Linked DNA regions of Homo sapiens: region 2 is linked to region 1. Evidence: fine-mapped expression QTL. A gene starts in region 1. The other region holds a variant in brackets. All regions are shown on one strand. Distances are between the middles of the regions. Region 1 holds the start of GMFG (glia maturation factor gamma). Region 2 holds the start of PAF1 (PAF1 component of Paf1/RNA polymerase II complex).

What was found. PIP is the estimated chance that this variant, and not a neighbour inherited with it, causes the effect.
Region 2: its variant is fine-mapped to the expression of GMFG in whole blood (TOPMed, PIP above 0.99).

Annotation. Positions count from the first base shown.
Region 1 is chr19:39,331,956-39,340,277 of GRCh38, reverse strand. It overlaps GMFG (glia maturation factor gamma), which reads left to right and starts at 4,235. Exons shown (of 7, transcript NM_004877.4): 1 at 4,235-4,304; 2 at 4,747-4,843; 3 at 4,968-5,017; 4 at 7,152-7,201. The coding sequence starts at 4,302.
Region 2 is chr19:39,383,893-39,392,214 of GRCh38, reverse strand. SAMD4B (sterile alpha motif domain containing 4B) reads right to left here. Exons shown (of 14, transcript NM_001384574.2): 14 at 6,515-8,322. It overlaps PAF1 (PAF1 component of Paf1/RNA polymerase II complex), which reads left to right and starts at 1,109. Exons shown (of 14, transcript NM_019088.4): 1 at 1,109-1,397; 2 at 1,926-1,955; 3 at 2,054-2,146; 4 at 2,454-2,575; 5 at 2,669-2,735; 6 at 2,832-2,933; 7 at 3,017-3,122; 8 at 3,200-3,268; 9 at 3,350-3,453; 10 at 3,539-3,655; 11 at 3,748-3,876; 12 at 5,416-5,521; 13 at 5,643-5,733; 14 at 5,812-6,586. The coding sequence starts at 1,351. The coding sequence ends at 6,224. MED29 (mediator complex subunit 29) reads right to left here and starts at 837. Exons shown (of 4, transcript NM_017592.4): 1 at 577-837. The coding sequence starts at 792. RefSeq lists an enhancer at 493-782 and a silencer at 2,320-2,451. The variant T/C (reference allele first, on the strand shown) is at 3,192.

The DNA.
Region 1 (8,322 bases):
ACTTGAGGCCAGGAGTTTGAGACCAGCCTGGCCAAAGTGGCAAAACCCTGTCTCTACTAAAAATGCCAAAAATTAACTGGGCATAGTGATGCGTGCCTGTAGTTCCAGCTACTCAGGAGGGTGAGGCAGGAGAATCACTTGAACCCAGGAGTCGGAGGTTGCAATAAGCCGAGATTTGCCATTGCACTCTAGCCCAGGTGACAGAGCGAGACTATGTCTCTAAATAAATAAACAAATAAATAACAAGAAAGCAGCTAAGGGAATGGAGTAATGCAGCCAGAATTAATTTACATGGGGAAAGGCCTCTTTCATTAGGTGAGACTGAAACAGAAATCTGAAGGAATGAAGGAGAAAGTGGGTTCCAGAAAGAGAAAACAGCAAGTGCAAAGGCCATGTAGTAGGATCATTCACAGAACCACAAAGGGGCCAGCATTGCTGGAGTGGAGTGAGCAAAAGAGGGCAGTGAAGGACAAGGTCCAAGAGGCAATGGGGTAGGGGTGGTGACAGATAACTTAGTATTTTAGTCATTGTTGGTGTGTGTGTGTGTGTGTGTGTGTGTGTGTGTGGGGGGGGGGGGCAGGGTCTCACTCTGTTGCCCAGACTGGATTGTAGTGGTGCGATCGCGGCTCACTGCAACCTCGGCTCACTGCAACCCCTGCCTCCTGGGTTCAAGTGATTCTCCTGCCTCAGCCTCTGGAGTAGCTGGAACTACAGCCGTATGCCATCAAACCTGGCTAAGTTTTGTATTTTTAGTAGAGATGGGGTTTCACCATGTTGCCCAGGCTGGTCTTGAACTCCTGGACTCAAGTGATCTGCCTGCCTCGGCCTCCCAAAGTGTTGGGATTACAGGCGTGAGCCACTGCGCCTGGCCTGCTGTTTGGTTTTTAGAGATAGGATCTTACTCTGTCACCTGGGCTGGAGTGCAGTGGTGTGATCCTAGCTCACTGCAGCCTCAAACTCCTGGGCTCAAGTGATCCTCCCAACCTCAGCCTCCCAAGTAGCTGGTACCTGGGATTACAGACACATGCCACCATGCCCGGCTACTTTTAAAATTTTTTTGTAGAGACAAGGTCTTGCTATGTTGCCCAGGCTGGTCTTGAACTCCTGGTCTCAAGCAATTCTCCTGCCTTGGCCTCCCAAAGTGCTGGGATTACAGGCATGAGCCACTGTGTCTGGCCCATGGGAGGGTTTGAGACCAGCCTGGCCAACATGGTAAAACCCTGTCTCTACTAAAAATACAAAAATATGGCTAGGCGCGGTGGCTCACACCTGTAATCCCAGCACTTTGGGAAGCTGAGGTGGGCTGATCACGAGGTCAGGAGTTCGAGACTAGCCTGACCAACATGGTGAAACCCCGTCTCTACTAGAAATACAAAAATTAGCTGGTTGTGGTGGCGCACACCTGTAATCCCAGCTACTCATGAGGCTGAGGCAGGAGAACTGCTTGAACCTGGGAGGTGGAGGTTGCAGTGAGCCGAGATTGTGCCACTGCACTCCAGCCTGGGTGACAGAGAGACACTCCATCTCAAGAAAAAAAAAAAAAAATTAGCCGGGTGTGGTGGCTCACGCCTGTAATCCCAGCTACTTGGGAGGCTGAAGTGAGAGAATCGCTTGAACCCAGGAGGCGGAGGTTGCGGTGAGCTGAGATGGTGCCACTGTACTCCAGCCTGGGTGACAGAGCGAGACCCCTGTCTCAAAAAAAAAAAAAAAGAAAAGAAAAAAAGAAAACCAGGCAAGTGTGGTGTCATGAAGACGATGTTTCAGGGAACAGGGAGTGATGGGCTGTGTCAGATGTGGCTGAGGAGGAGTGAGAATTGACCATTAGATCCAGCACCGTGGAGTGCATGGGTGACCTTGACAAGGGCATGTCAGCTGAGAGGAATACAGGTGAAAGGCTGATTGGAGAAGGCAGAAGAGAAAACTGGGAGGAGAAATTGGAGGCAGCAATGTAGATTATTCTTTTGAGAAATCTTTTTTTTTTTTTTGAGAAGGAGTCTCACTCTGTCACCCAGGCTAGAGTGCAGTGGCGCAATCTTGGCTCACTGCAAGCTCCGCCTCCTGGGTTCACGCCATTCTCCTGCCTCATCCTCCTGAGTAACTGGGACTACAGGCACCTGCCACCACGCCCGGCTAATTTTTTGTATTTTTAGTAGAGACGGGGTTTCACCTTGTTAGCCAGGATGGTCTCGATCTCCTGACCTCGTGATCCACCCGCCTTGGCCTCCCAAAGTGCTGGGATTACAGGCATGAGCCACCACGCCCGGCCTCTTTTGAGAAATCTTGCAGAAAAGGGAAGGAAATGAGTGAGCAGCAGCTGGACAGGAGATACAGTTTTATGTTTTTAAGATGGAAGAGGCCAGACACAGTGACTCACGCCTGTAATCCCTGCACACCAGGAGGCTGAGGCAGGAGGATCGCTTGAGGCCAGGAGTTTGAGGCCAGCCTGGGCCACATAGCGAGATCCTGTCTCTATAAAAATCAAAAGTAAAATTGGCCAGGCATGGTGTTGCGTGCCTATAGTCCCAGCTACCTAGGAGGCCAAGGTGGGAAGGTGGCTTGAGCCCAGGAGTTGGAGACTGCAGTGAGCCATGATTACACCGCTGCACTCCAGCCTGGGTAACAGAATGAGACCCTGTCTCAAAATAAAAGAAAAAAAGAAAAGAAAAAAATTAAGATGGAAGAAGTAACACTGCATGGAGGCTAAGGAGAAAGATCCAGGAGGCATGGGGACGTTGGTGAGACAAGAGGGAGAGAGAGGACAGCTGCAGAGATGTAGGTGAAGGGGTAGAGTCCAGTGTAGGGTCCGGGGTTTGCCCACCATGGAGGGAAGTGGGCCAGTCACAGTTGGCCTAGGACCCTGTGGAAATTGTCTTTTGTTTGCTTTTATCTTCTCACTGAAATACATATGGTTTTTGTGTGAACTACATTCCTTTTATTTCTTCTTTATATGACAGTCAGGACATTATATTGATTTTTTTTTGAATTTATGTGTGTAAGTAGGTTATATTATCTAGGAATTTTATTTCGGGATGGGAAAAGGGGGCAGTGCAAAAATACTCAATAAAAAAAATAGCCGGGCATGGTGGCTCACAGTGGCTCACACCTGGAATCCCAGCACTTTCGGAGGCTGAGGCAGGTGGATCATTTGAGGTCAGGAGTTCGAGACCAACATGGCCAACATGGTGAAACCCCATCTCTACTAAAAATACAAAAATTAGCCGGGCGTAGTGGCACGTGCCTGTAGTCCCAGCTACTTGGGAGGCTGAGGCCGGAGAATGGCTTGAACCTGGGAGGCGGAGGTTGCAGTGAGCTGAGATCGCACCACTGCACTCCAGCCTGGGCGACAGAGTGAGACCCTGTCTCAAAAAAAAAAAATTGGGTACCGGTCTGACGGGATTGAACTCCCTTGTTGTAGGGCCTCATAGGTCATTGCAAGGCTAGTGAGGTTGGAAAAGTGCAGGAAAAAAGTCACCATTACCCAGGCACTGTGGGGTTGCCCCTCTGGTCCCCATTTTGCCATTGACATAATGGGCGTCAGTCTGACCAGCAAAAGACTAAACTCCCCTTTTCCAGCCCTGCAATTCAAATATCCCAGATGGGGGTAAATCTAGGAAGGCCACCTGGAGGAGGGGAGGAGCAAAATAGTTCGTTTTTAGTACCTATTGTGTCTGCCATGCTGGCAGCTATGTGAAGCTATTTATTTATTTATTTTTATTTATTTGTATTTTTATTGCCTGGGATAGAGTGCAATGATGTGATCTTGGCTCACTGCAACCTCTGCTGCTCGGATTCAAGCAATTCTTGTGCCTCAGACTCCCGAGTAGCTGGGATCACAGGCGTGCACCACCATGCCAGGCTAATATTTTGTATTTTTAGTAGAGATGGGGTTTTGCCATGTTGGTCAGGCTGGTCTCCAACTCCTGACCTCAGGTGATCCGCCCGCCTCGGCCTCCCAAAGTGCTGGCATTACAGGTGTGAGCCACCATGCCCGGCCGATGTGAAGCTATTTATATCCTCACCACAATCTCAAATCAGAGGGGTGAAGTTACTTAGCTAGGGTCACACAGCAAGGAAGCTTTGGAACCCTGGTCTGAGCGATTTCCTGACAGGTCCTGGCAGATGAGGGGAAGGAAGGAGGGGGAGGAGCCCTCTGTGACAGTTGTCCCAGAAAGGGCATAAACAGGATGTGGTGTTGGATGAAACCTTCCTCCTACTGCACAGCCCGCCCCCCTACAGCCCCGGTCCCCACGCCTAGAAGACAGCGGAACTAAGAAAAGAAGAGGCCTGTGGACAGAACAATCATGGTCAGGGGCCAGGGGTTCTATGGGAAGAGCTGGGGCTGGGGTTGGGGCTGGGGCTTGGAGGACACCTGGGCGAAGGTCAGGCTATGGGATGGAGGTCACGGGCCGGGAAGGGGGCCCAACTGTGGTGAACAGCCCGGCTGGAAGAACAGAGAGACAGTGGCTCTGGGTTTAGGCTCAGGAAGTGGATCTCTGCACCTCCTTGAGTGTCCCCCAAGAGTCCCCGTGGAGAAGGCGGGAACCCAGCCTCTGCTCCGCCCCCCAAGCTGAGTGCCCTGGTGAGGGGTATCTACTCTGTGGGAAGGGTGCCTTTTCTCAATGTTCACAAAGGCATCAGATGGGCCGGCGCGATGCTCCTCTTCATTAGTGGATGGAGAAACAGGTTTGGGGAAGGGGTGAGGGCTGAGGCCAGGCCATTTCAGCTCTTCCTGGGTCCCTCCGGCAGTCTGACTCCCTGGTGGTGTGCGAGGTAGACCCAGAGCTAACAGAAAAGCTGAGGAAATTCCGCTTCCGAAAAGAGACAGACAATGCAGCCATCATAAGTGAGTGACATCTTCCCCCACAGAAGGATGGGAGGGCGGTGGTGAGGGCAGATAGGGAGGGCTGGGCTTGTGTCCCCCATGGATCAGGGGGAGTGTCTAATCCCTGTGTGCCACCCCTCCCCAGTGAAGGTGGACAAAGACCGGCAGATGGTGGTGCTGGAGGAAGAATTTCAGGTGATGGGCTGGGGTGATTGGGACTGGGAGGTACAGGGTGAGACTGGGAGAACCAAGTGGTTGGAACTGATATGAAGAGCCTGGCATGGGGGTAGAAAGACCTGGAGATTGGCCGAGCACAGTGGCTCATGCCTGTAATCCCAGCACTTTGGGAGGCCGAGGCAGGTGGATCACCTGAGGTTGGGAGTTCAAGACCAGCCTGGCAAACATGGTGAAACCCCATCTGTACTAAAAATATAAAAAGTTAGCTAGGCATGGTGGTGGGCACCTGTAATCACAGCTACTTGGGAGGCCGAGGCAGGAGAATCGCTGGAACCCGGGAGATGGAGGCTGTAGTGAGCCGAGATTGTGCCACTACACTTCAGTCTGAACCACAGAGCAAGACTCTGTCTCAAAAACAAAAACAAAAAACAAAAAAACAAAAAACCCTGGAGATCAAGTTCTAGCTCACTCATGACCCCCAGCAAGAGACTTTGCCTGTTTGTGTCTCTATTTCCTCATCTGTGAAATGGGGAGAATAGTACTTATCTCATAGGCTTGTTTTTACATCCAGTGATTTAATTCTTGTAATGGGTTTAGAACAAGGCCTGGCACTTAGTATGTGCTCAATAAGGTGATGATGATCTTAATAATGATGATAATAATGCTTTATTGGCATTTAAATGAAAGAGTTTCCATATAAGTTAAAAAGCTAGCCAGGCATGGTGGCTCATGCCTGTAATCCCAGCGCTTTGGGAGGCTGAGGCAGGAGGATCACTTGAGCCCAGGAGTTTAAGACCAGCCTGGGCAACATGGTAACACCCTAACTCTACTAAAAATACAAAAATTAGCCAAGCACAGTGGTGTGCACCTGTGATCTCAGCTACACAGGAGGCTGAGGTGGGAGGGTTGCTTGAGGCTGGGAGTTTTGAGACCAACCTGGGCAACAAAGCAAGACCCCATCTCGGCTGGGTGCCGTGGCTCACGCCTGTAATCTCAGCACTTTGGGAGGCTGAGGCGGGCGGATCACAAGGTCAGGAGATCGAGACCATCCTGGCTAACATGGTGAAACCCCGTCTCTACTAAAAATTCAAAAAATTAGCTGGGTGTGGTGGCGGGTGCCTGTAGTCCCAGCTACTCGGGAGGCTGAGGCAGGAGAATGGCGTGAACCCCGGAGGCGGAGCTTGCAGTGAGCCAAGATCGTGCCACTGCACTCCAGCCTGGGCGACAGACTCTGTCTCAAAAAAAAAAAAAAAAAAAAAAAGACTCCATCTCTACAAAAAAAAAAAAGGGGGTAGACCTCACCCCCCTGGTGGCCTCACTGTCTTTATCAATAACAAGAATGATAATAAGGCTTATTTCTCTAGTGTTGCGATAAGGATTTATAAGGGAATCCATGGAGACTGGGGGCTGGGGCTCTCTCAGGCCCTCTGAAAGGCAGTATAGTGAAGCAGTTATGATTCGAACCCAGATTCAAATCTCAACTCTGCTGCTTTCTATCTGTGCAATCTTGGGCAAATGCCTTAACACCTCTGGGCCTCAGTTTTCTCAGCTGTATAGTGGGCATAATGATGGGACCTACCCCACAGACTTACGGGATAGTTGCATGAATTAATCCATGTGTGTTTCATAGAACGATGCCTTGGCACATGGTAAGTGCTCACCTAAAGGTGGTCATTCTTTTTTTTTTTTTTTTTTTTGAGACGGAGTTTCGATCTTTTTTGCTCAGGCTGGAGTGCTATGGCACAATCTTGATTCACTGCAACCTCCGCCTCCCGGGTTCAAGCAATTCTCCTGCCTCAGCCTCCTGAACACGCCTGGCTAATTTTTTTGTTGGAAATGGAGTCTCACTCTGTCTCCCAGGCTGGAGTGCAGTGGCGCGATCTCGGCTCACTGCAACCTCTGCATCCCGGATTCAAGCAATTCTCCTGCCTCAGCCTCTCGAGTAGCTGGGACTACAGGTGCATGCCACCATGCCTGGCTAATTTTCTGTATTTTTAGTAGAGACGGGTTTCACCCTGTTAGCCAGGATGGTCTGAATGATTTCCTGACCTTGTGATCCGCCTGCCTCGGCCTCCCAAAGTGCTGGGATTACAGGTGTGAGCCACTGCGCCCTGCCTCATTCTTTGTCTTTTCTTCTGTTTTCTTGCCTCAGAACATTTCCCCAGAGGAGCTCAAAATGGAGTTGCCGGAGAGACAGCCCAGGTATCCTGGGGGAAGAAAGGGTTGGATCAGGCCATGAGGGGAGGGGTGATGTTGGAGGTATAGGCTAAGGGACTGCTGGAGTTCCAGCCCTATTCATGGACTTTGAATCTCTGTGTTTGGCCGAGTGAGGTGGCTCATCCCTGTAATCCCAGCACTTTGGGAGGTCAAGGAGGGTGGATCACTTGAGGTCAGGAGTTCAAGACTAGCCTGACCAACATGGTGAAATCCCGTCTCTACTAAAAATACAAAAATTAACTGGGCGTGGTGGCATGTGACTGTAATCCCAGCTACTTGGGAGGCTGAGGCACGAGAATCGCTTGAACCTGGCAGGCAGAGGCTGCAGTGAGCTGAGATCACACCACTGCACTCCAGCCTGGGTGACACAGCGAGACTCTATCTCAAAAAAAAAAAAAAAAAAAAGAATCTCTGTGTTTGAGGCCAAGAGTTCATACTCTAGAACTTTTTGTTTGTATAGCAATATTTTATTGCAGAATTTTATACCGATTATTTATGATACCGGTTTAAGAGTCTTTTTTTTTTTTTTGTACAAACTTTGTTGAGTTTTTGTTTCAACATTACGCTGGCATCATTTTTTAAAAATGAAATTTTGGCCAGGTACTATGACTCCCACCTGTAATCTCAGCCCTTTGGGAGCCTGAGGCGGGAGGATCACCTGAGGCCAGGAGTTCGAGACTAGCCTGGGCAACATAGCAAGACCTTGTCTCTATTTTTTTTTTTTTTTTGTTAGAGACAGAGTCTCGCTCTGTTGCCCAGGTTGGAGTGCAGTGGCGCGATCTTGACTCACTGCAACCTCCGCCTCCTGGGTTCAAGCGATTCTCTGGCCTCAGCCTCCTGAGTAGCTGGGATTACAGGGGCCCACCACCATGTCTGGATAATTTTTGTATTTTTAGTAGAGACATGTTGGCCAGGCTGGTCTCGAACTCCTAACCTCAGGTGATCCCTGCTTCGGCCTCCCAAAGTGCTGGGATTACAGGCGTGAGCCACCGCGCCTGGTGGAGGACCTTGTCTCTATTAAAAAAAAAAAAAATTAGCCAGGCATGGTGGCATGTGCCTGTGGTTCCAGCTACTTGGGAGGCTGATGTCGGGGGTCAGTTGAGTTC
Region 2 (8,322 bases), 52 kb before region 1:
GGCAGAATCTCCGTATAAGCCAGTACTCTCCTCAGGCTTTAACGACCAGAGCCCAGTTTCTCCTTTAAACAACCCCTCACTCAAGCTCCGGCCAGTCCCAGCCTCAGCATCAGCGCTGATCCCATCTCTGCCGAGCTTCGCTTAGGTCTCGCAGAAAACAACAGTTTTATTTATTTATTTATTTATTTTTTTGACGGAGTCTCGCTCTGTTGCCCAGGCTGGAGTGCAATGGCACGATGTCGGCTCACTGCAACCTCCGCCTCCTGGGTTCAAGCGATTCTCCTGCCTCAGCTTCCCGAGTAGCTGTAATTACAGGCGCGCGCCACCATGCCCGGCTAATTTTTGTATTTTTAGTAGAGACGAGGTTTCACCAGGCTGGTCTTGAACTCCTGACCTCAAGTGATCCGCCCGCCTCGGCCTCCCAAAGTGCTGGGAACACAGGCGTGCACCAGCCAGGCCAAAACAGCAGGTTCTATTCCTCTTTCTGCTTAGCGCTCTCTCCGACTAACCTGGCCCTCGGCCTGCCCCTCTAGACTACCAAATCCAGTTTGCTTCTCGCTGCTTAAGGCCAATCACCTGTAGACTCTCCTTCAGCTGCGGGATGAGCATCTTATAACGCTGCACAGGATCGAAGTCCTGTTGCTGTTGCTGCAGGAGGCCGCTCTGGGCAGGGCCCACCAGTTGTGCTGGCGGTTGCGGCTGCTGCTGGGGACCCGGGCCGCCAGCCGAACTAGGACCCGATACACCAGCAGCTGAGGAAGCCGCTGAAGCTTGCTGCTGGGATGCAGCCATCTTCCTCGCGTAGACCGCCGGAAGTGCGTTACGACTGCGTCTCTCCCCGTTGCTTTTCAGCATCCCTATTTCTAGTCCCCGTTTGCTAGTTAGTCCCGCCCCCTAGGCAATTAAGCCAATGGAGGGGAAGGAGGTGCCCCAACGTTACGTCACTCTCAAATCTGCGTCCAGACTGAGATATCTCTCCACCAATCACAGAAGCACCTCTCTCCCTCGCTCCGCCCTTCACCCAGACGCTCGCCAATCCGTGTGTGGTTCCGAGCCGGACTTCATTTCCCCGAAGGCGTCGCGGCCTGAGGAGACCCGTTGGGTCCTCAGCGTCTTGGCGGCAGTTGGTGGAACCGGAGCTTCGAGTCCGTCCCCGGTGCTGCCTGCGCGTTCACCTGAGTCTCGCTGGAGCTCTTCTCGCCCGCCCACCTCATCTCAACCCACTTTCCGCGGGGAGCGGCGCCAAGCTGGGCCTTCCTCGGATCAGGCGTCCCCTGAAGTCGGCACGCCCCTCTGCGTCCCCCTTCGGTCCCGCTAGGACCCCGTCCGGGCTGCCGTCGCCTCGTCGCTATGGCGCCCACCATCCAGACCCAGGCCCAGCGGGAGGATGGCCACAGGTAGGCGCCACGCTTTTCTGTTGCAGCAAGGCGGGGGATCGGGAGAGGGTTTCTGCTGAACAACGTCACCAGCCCCCAGGTCTGCCCGTGACGTCATGAAGCGCTCACCTTTGACGAAGGGGGCGGGTTCCTTCTGAGATTCAGGTGTTCCCCTCCTCCCCGCCGTGCAGTTCAGGGATTAGGCTTTTGGAGACTCCCTCCAGAAGGGATCCCTCCAGTCAACCGTTTGGAGACCCCTCTTCCGAAGACGATTGAGTACATGGTTCTTTATTAAAGCACTTGAAGCCATCTCCTGCAAAAGGGATTGAGCACTTGGCCTTGTTCATTAAAGCTTTTGGGGGCATTTCTTCCTAAATAAATTGAACATTTGTCTCCTTCCATTAAAGCATTTGGACACTCCCCACACCACCACCCAAAGAAACCAGCATTTGTCACCCCTCCTACCTTTTGAAAGGTTGGGGAAGCCTTTTTCATTCTCCTGTCAATCCCGTCCTCTCCACCTATCACTGTTTCTTTCTTCTCCACTAGGCCCAATTCCCACCGGACTCTGCCTGAGAGGTGAGCCCCACTGTGCTTTCCCAGGAGCGGTGGGGCAGTGGGGCTGGGAGCAGAGGTGGGGCAGCGGGGGCCCACTTTTGAGCCACTAATGTTCCTAGGTCTGGAGTGGTCTGCCGAGTCAAGTACTGCAATAGCCTCCCTGATATCCCCTTCGACCCCAAGTTCATCACCTACCCCTTCGACCAGAACAGGTGAGACTAAGGAATGGGAAAACTACTCAGGTATGAGTTCCTTGAAGGCAGGGACTGCTTGTCTCGTTGGCTGCTGTCTGCTCAGGGCCTAGCACAGTACCTACCCTAGCACATAGTAGTAGCTGCTCAATTGTTAATGGAGCAAGCAGTGTCCAAGTCCCTTCCCACTGGGGAGCCAGCTTTCAGACTCTGCCATGGGGGACACTTCATTCTGAGTTCCTCCCCAGAGAAGCTCCGCCTCTGGGAAGCAGGGCTGTGAGGGGTGAAGCTGGAATCCAAACACCACAATAGGTGTTTCCCCACCCAGGTTCGTCCAGTACAAAGCCACTTCCTTGGAGAAACAGCACAAACATGACCTCCTGACTGAGCCAGACCTGGGGGTCACCATCGATCTCATCAATCCTGACACCTACCGCATCGACCCCAATGGTGTGTGGGGAGACAGGGAGGGTCTGCTCTAGGTCAGCAAAGGCTCAGGCCTGGGCCTCCCTCATGGTCCTCCTGCCCCCCGCTCTCCTCTAGTTCTTCTAGATCCAGCTGATGAGAAACTTTTGGAAGAGGAGATTCAGGCCCCCACCAGCTCCAAGAGGTGAGTGGGTAGCAAATGGGTACTGGAGACTGGCTCAGGTGGGCCCTACAAGCAGGAGGGCAGTGGGGTCCTGAGATACCTGATTTCCCACCCCAGATCCCAGCAGCACGCGAAGGTGGTGCCATGGATGCGAAAGACAGAGTACATCTCCACTGAGTTCAACCGTTATGGCATCTCCAATGAGAAGCCTGAGGTCAAGTAAGTTACTAACAGGAAGAGAGGGAAGGTGGAGATATTAGGTGTGTCCAGTGGCCCCTAAGGACCTTTTTCTTCATTCCTAGGATTGGGGTTTCTGTGAAGCAGCAGTTTACCGAGGAAGAAATATACAAAGACAGGGATAGCCAGATCACAGCCATTGAGAAGACTTTTGAGGATGCCCAGAAATCAGTAATTGAGGGACTGGGATGGGGAGAGGCAAGGGTGCGGCTGCAGAGCTCCTCCTCACCTTGTTTTTGT[T/C]CCACCAGATCTCACAGCATTACAGCAAACCCCGAGTCACACCGGTGGAGGTCATGCCTGTCTTCCCAGACTTTAAGGTCAGGCCCAAGGTGGGAGGTAGAAAGGGACAGCCTATTTGTGCCTGTTCCCATCTAACCCCAGTGCCTCCATCTCCCTAGATGTGGATCAATCCATGTGCTCAGGTGATCTTTGACTCAGACCCAGCCCCCAAGGACACGAGTGGTGCAGCTGCGTTGGAGATGATGTCTCAGGCCATGATTAGGTAGGTGGTCCTGCTGTCCACCTTGGCCTGCTCCTTGCTGCCTCTTGTCCTCACACTTCATTGCTACTCCTTTTCCCCCAACCAGGGGCATGATGGATGAGGAAGGGAACCAGTTTGTGGCCTATTTCCTGCCTGTAGAAGAGACGTTGAAGAAACGAAAGCGGGACCAGGAGGAGGAGATGGACTATGCACCAGATGATGTGTGCGTGGGTTGCGGTTAAGTTTTGGGGATTGGGAAGTTTTGGGGATTGGGATAGGGAAGAAATGGGGCTGAACCTGTGCCCTCATCTTCAGGTATGACTACAAAATTGCTCGGGAGTACAACTGGAACGTGAAGAACAAAGCTAGCAAGGGCTATGAGGAAAACTACTTCTTCATCTTCCGAGAGGGTGACGGGGTTTACTACAATGAGTTGGAAACCAGGTACTCAGCACACTCCTATCTGATTAGCCTGGATCTGTGCTTCTTAAGACCCTGGGGCATGCAAGAGCCACCTTGGAGGTCATTTGTACCTAAGAATTTGTCATATGCATTGGTAAACAAGAGCAGCAGATGTCTGGTCATGCACATGAGCTGGACTTGGTTCTAACAGGAGGAGCCAGAAAAAAAATCTTTTTTTTTGAGATGGAGTCTCGCTCTGTTGCCCAGGCCAGAGTGCAGTGGTGTGATCTCAGCCCACTGCAACCTCCGCTTCCTGGGTTCAAGTGATTCTCCTGCCTCAGCCTCCTGAGTAGCTGGCATCACAGGCGTGTGCCAGCATGGCCAGCTAATTTTTTTTGTATTTTTAATAGAGATGGGGTTTCACCATGCTGGCCAGGCTGGTCTTGAACTCCTGACCTCAGGTGATCTGCCTGCCTCGGCCTCCCAAAGTGCTGGGATTACAGGTGTGAGCCACCACGCCCAGCCAGAATATCTTAATGCAGGAGACATTTAGAGCCTTTGCGCAAGGCAGAGGGCCAAGTTTCCCAGTATTAGTAACAGACTTCATGTGAAAGTAAACATTGCCAAAGTATGGAGTAATATATAAAATTAGCATGAATGTTTTAAATGAAATGCTTAAACCCATGTTCAAAAATGTGACTCCAAAACTCTTCCCTTATGGCTCAAAGTTTACTGCTATGCCAGCACCTCTGGTGTAGAGTTGGGAAGTCTTGAGTTTCTGTTTAAAGCAGAGATTACAAGAACTGTGACCCCATAGGCCAGGCAGGAAATGTAAAAGAGCAGTGGCTGGTAGCATCTGAGTGACCTGGAGTTCTGGGCAACCATGGAGGGCACTATTCACTTCCAGCCCACTGTTGCTGTGCTGTGGGGCCAGAAATTCCTATCTTCCAAAAGCCCCAAATCCAAATGATTTGACATCTCCTGGTTTCTCAAAGTGTTGGTAACTAACTGACACATACAGTAATGCACTGCATGTTTCAGTCAACAATGGACTGCTTATGGTGGTCCCTTAAGATAGAATACCGTATCTTTACTATACCTTTTCTATGTTTAGATACACAAATACTTACTATTGTATTACAATTGCCTGCAGTATTCAGTACAGTCACATGCTGTACAACCTTGTAGCCTAGGAGCAATAGGCTACACCATTACAGCCTAGGTATGTAGTAGGCTATACTATGTACGTTTGTGTAAGAGTACTGTATGATGTTCACATGATGTATATCTCAGAATGTGTCCCTGTTAAATGGCCCATGCCCGTATTTATGTAAATACACCGTATAACACACACACACAGTGTAGGGCAACCAAACTGGTGCCATGGGAGCCATCCTTCCTTTCCCCTGCCCTCAATACCTTGAGCTTAGCTGCCCTTATTCAATCTGTATTTATTCCCATTTACTCTAAGTATTGATGGGGAACCAAGTCAGACCAGACCCCTCACTGGGGGGCGGGGAAGTGGGAGGTGTGTCTTTAACTGCATCTTCCACTTCTCTCTCCCAAATTCACCCCCTGCAGGGTCCGCCTTAGTAAGCGCCGGGCCAAGGCTGGGGTTCAGTCAGGCACCAACGCCCTGCTTGTGGTCAAACATCGGGACATGAATGAGAAGGAACTGGAAGCTCAGGTAACAAGCACCACTGGCTCAGGGCACCCATGGCAGGGAGGGTGGTGGTTGTAGGTGAGGAGGGGGACAAAAACCCAGCAGAACACCCTCCTTCCCCTCATTCCAATCTTGCTGCTTCCAGGAGGCACGGAAGGCCCAGCTAGAAAACCACGAACCGGAGGAGGAAGAGGAAGAGGAGATGGAGACAGAAGAGAAAGAAGCTGGGGGCTCAGGTAAATCTGGACAGGCCAGACTCTGGGAGCCCTGGGAGGGTGGAAAAGTGGGTTTCATCTCTCTCCACTCCCTTCCAGATGAGGAGCAGGAGAAGGGCAGCAGCAGTGAGAAGGAGGGCAGTGAAGATGAGCACTCGGGCAGCGAGAGTGAACGGGAGGAAGGTGACAGGGACGAGGCCAGTGACAAGAGTGGCAGTGGTGAGGACGAGAGCAGCGAGGATGAGGCCCGGGCTGCCCGTGACAAAGAGGAGATCTTTGGCAGTGATGCTGATTCTGAGGACGATGCCGACTCTGATGATGAGGACAGAGGACAGGCCCAAGGTGGCAGTGACAATGATTCAGACAGCGGCAGCAATGGGGGTGGCCAGCGGAGCCGGAGCCACAGCCGCAGCGCCAGTCCCTTCCCCAGTGGCAGCGAGCACTCGGCCCAGGAGGATGGCAGTGAAGCTGCAGCTTCTGATTCCAGTGAAGCTGATAGTGACAGTGACTGAGTCCCAGGGCATTCAGGGCTGGTTCAGACACCATTATTGTGAGCAGCAAAGCACTTTTCTAGTGGTCTGTTTGTGAGCCTTTCACTTGTTTGTTCCCCACCCCCAAACCTTTGCTGTTAATAAAGTCAACTTCTCTTTACTTCCCCTCCCAGCCCCTATGATGTCATTCAGCCCAGCACATACCTCCCGCAACCCCCAGGTGCTCAAGGATCTTGGCTTGAGGCTTAGAAACACAGGCCAGAGGCAGGGCCAATGGTTTCCCACAAAATGTAGCACAACGAAGGTCAGAATTCGTTTTTTTTGTTTGTTTTTTTTTTTTCCAAAATAAGCCCAGACCATTAAACAAGTGAAACTCCAACAAATAAGTCTTCTCCAACAGCGAGAAAAACTGTACAGTTACTCAAAGCTGATTCTGCCAGTGGGGCCGGGGACAGAAGTGGGTAGGGAGGGTGAAATCATGGAGGAGGGCCTGGGGAGGGGGCTGGAGCGGGAGAGGGTCAGGGTCCTGCCCATCAGAGTGGGGCCGCCTGCGTCCTGCACACTCTGCTGTCAGGTGGGGTGGGGGGCAGCTCTTGCCTCCCTGTGTGTGTGAGACGGTGTCCCTCACCACCTCCCAGTGCCAGGCACAGTCAGCTCACCCTGATGGAGAGTGAACAAGACAGGACAGGCTGGGGAGAGGGGAGGGTCCCATGAGAGGGACACCCTGCTGATTCCAAACGAGGTGGCCCATCCATCCCACTTCCTGCAGCTAGTGGGAGGGGGACTGGAGAAGCCCTGGGAGATTGAGGGGATGAGCAAAGGCACAGAAACATGGAGGGCCGGGGTGGGGGACTTGCATAGGTTGATGAGTGTGCAAGAGGTACATAAATAAACCTGACACCCCACCCAGCCCGGCACTGGGAGAGGAAGTGGGGACCCAGAGCCAGGTTCCCAGGGCCACCCTACCCCCTGGCTTCTTCCCCCTCCCTGGGCTCAGAGCAGAGGGAAGTCCACAGACCAGGAGGGCGGGGGCAAGAAGGTCTGGGGAATGGGGTGATAGTGCAGGGAGGGTGGTGGTTTTAAAATTTTTTTTTTTTTTGTTTTTTTTGTTTTTTTCCCAACATTTTGTATCTTTAATAACATACACAATGGTTACCAGCCATATTCATAACAAAAGTTATTCATAAAATGTATCTAAAAATAACATTTTTTTTCCTTTTCGGTGTGAAAAGCTTGAGAATGTCCCAGTTGGGAAGGTGGGTTGAGGGGGAGGAGGGCGTTGAAGAGGGAGACCCTGGCTTCCCCGCAGTCTGAACCCCCAAATCCCCTCCCTCCACCTGGGCCCCAACACAACCCCTCATTAGGAATAGGGACCAGACAGTCTGTCGGACTCTGGGGCTGGGACGAATCTCTGGGTTATGATATAGTGTTCCACTTAAGTGAGGTCATGACATAATGGGGGAAGGAAAAAGGCTGAAAGAAAAGGGAGGGGCTTAGGGAAAAACCCAAAAACCAAACAATCCCCTTTCCCTTATTCCTGACTCCCAAGTCTCACCAACCAGACCTGGGAGCGGAGAAGGGTGTGTGTTCGTGGGGAAGGGGACGTTAAGGCAACAGACTTCCTGACCTCACTGGCTACCCTGGCTGCCCACCTCCAACCTCTTCATCCGGGTAGCCAGGGCTGGAGGAAAATGGGTTAGAGCTTGAGGGTCTGGAGGAGGGGGCTCTGCCCTCTCCCCTCATAAAGTTCAGGCTCTCCCTGCCACTGTCTTGGCTGAGAGAGACCTGGGGATTCTAAAAATGAGAGGAAATGATCAGAGAAAAACCGTTAAGAACTATATAAATATGTATCTTAAATAGGCCTAAGAAATTAATCATAGAGAACCTCTGGTGAACAGGGCCAGGGGAGGTGAGAGAGAGGAAGGTGGCTCCTGTCCTTGCAGAATGTGGGGAATGGTGAAGGGGAAGCAGGGAGAGGAGAGAGAGCTTCCTCTCCTTGCTCCCCTTCCTTCTCCCCAGCTCCTCTCAATAACATTCTGGAGGGCAGGTTCTCTGCCCTGCGCGTCACCCCAAATGTCAAATGTTTCTGAGCAGGCTCCACAAGGTAGTGGTCAGTTTG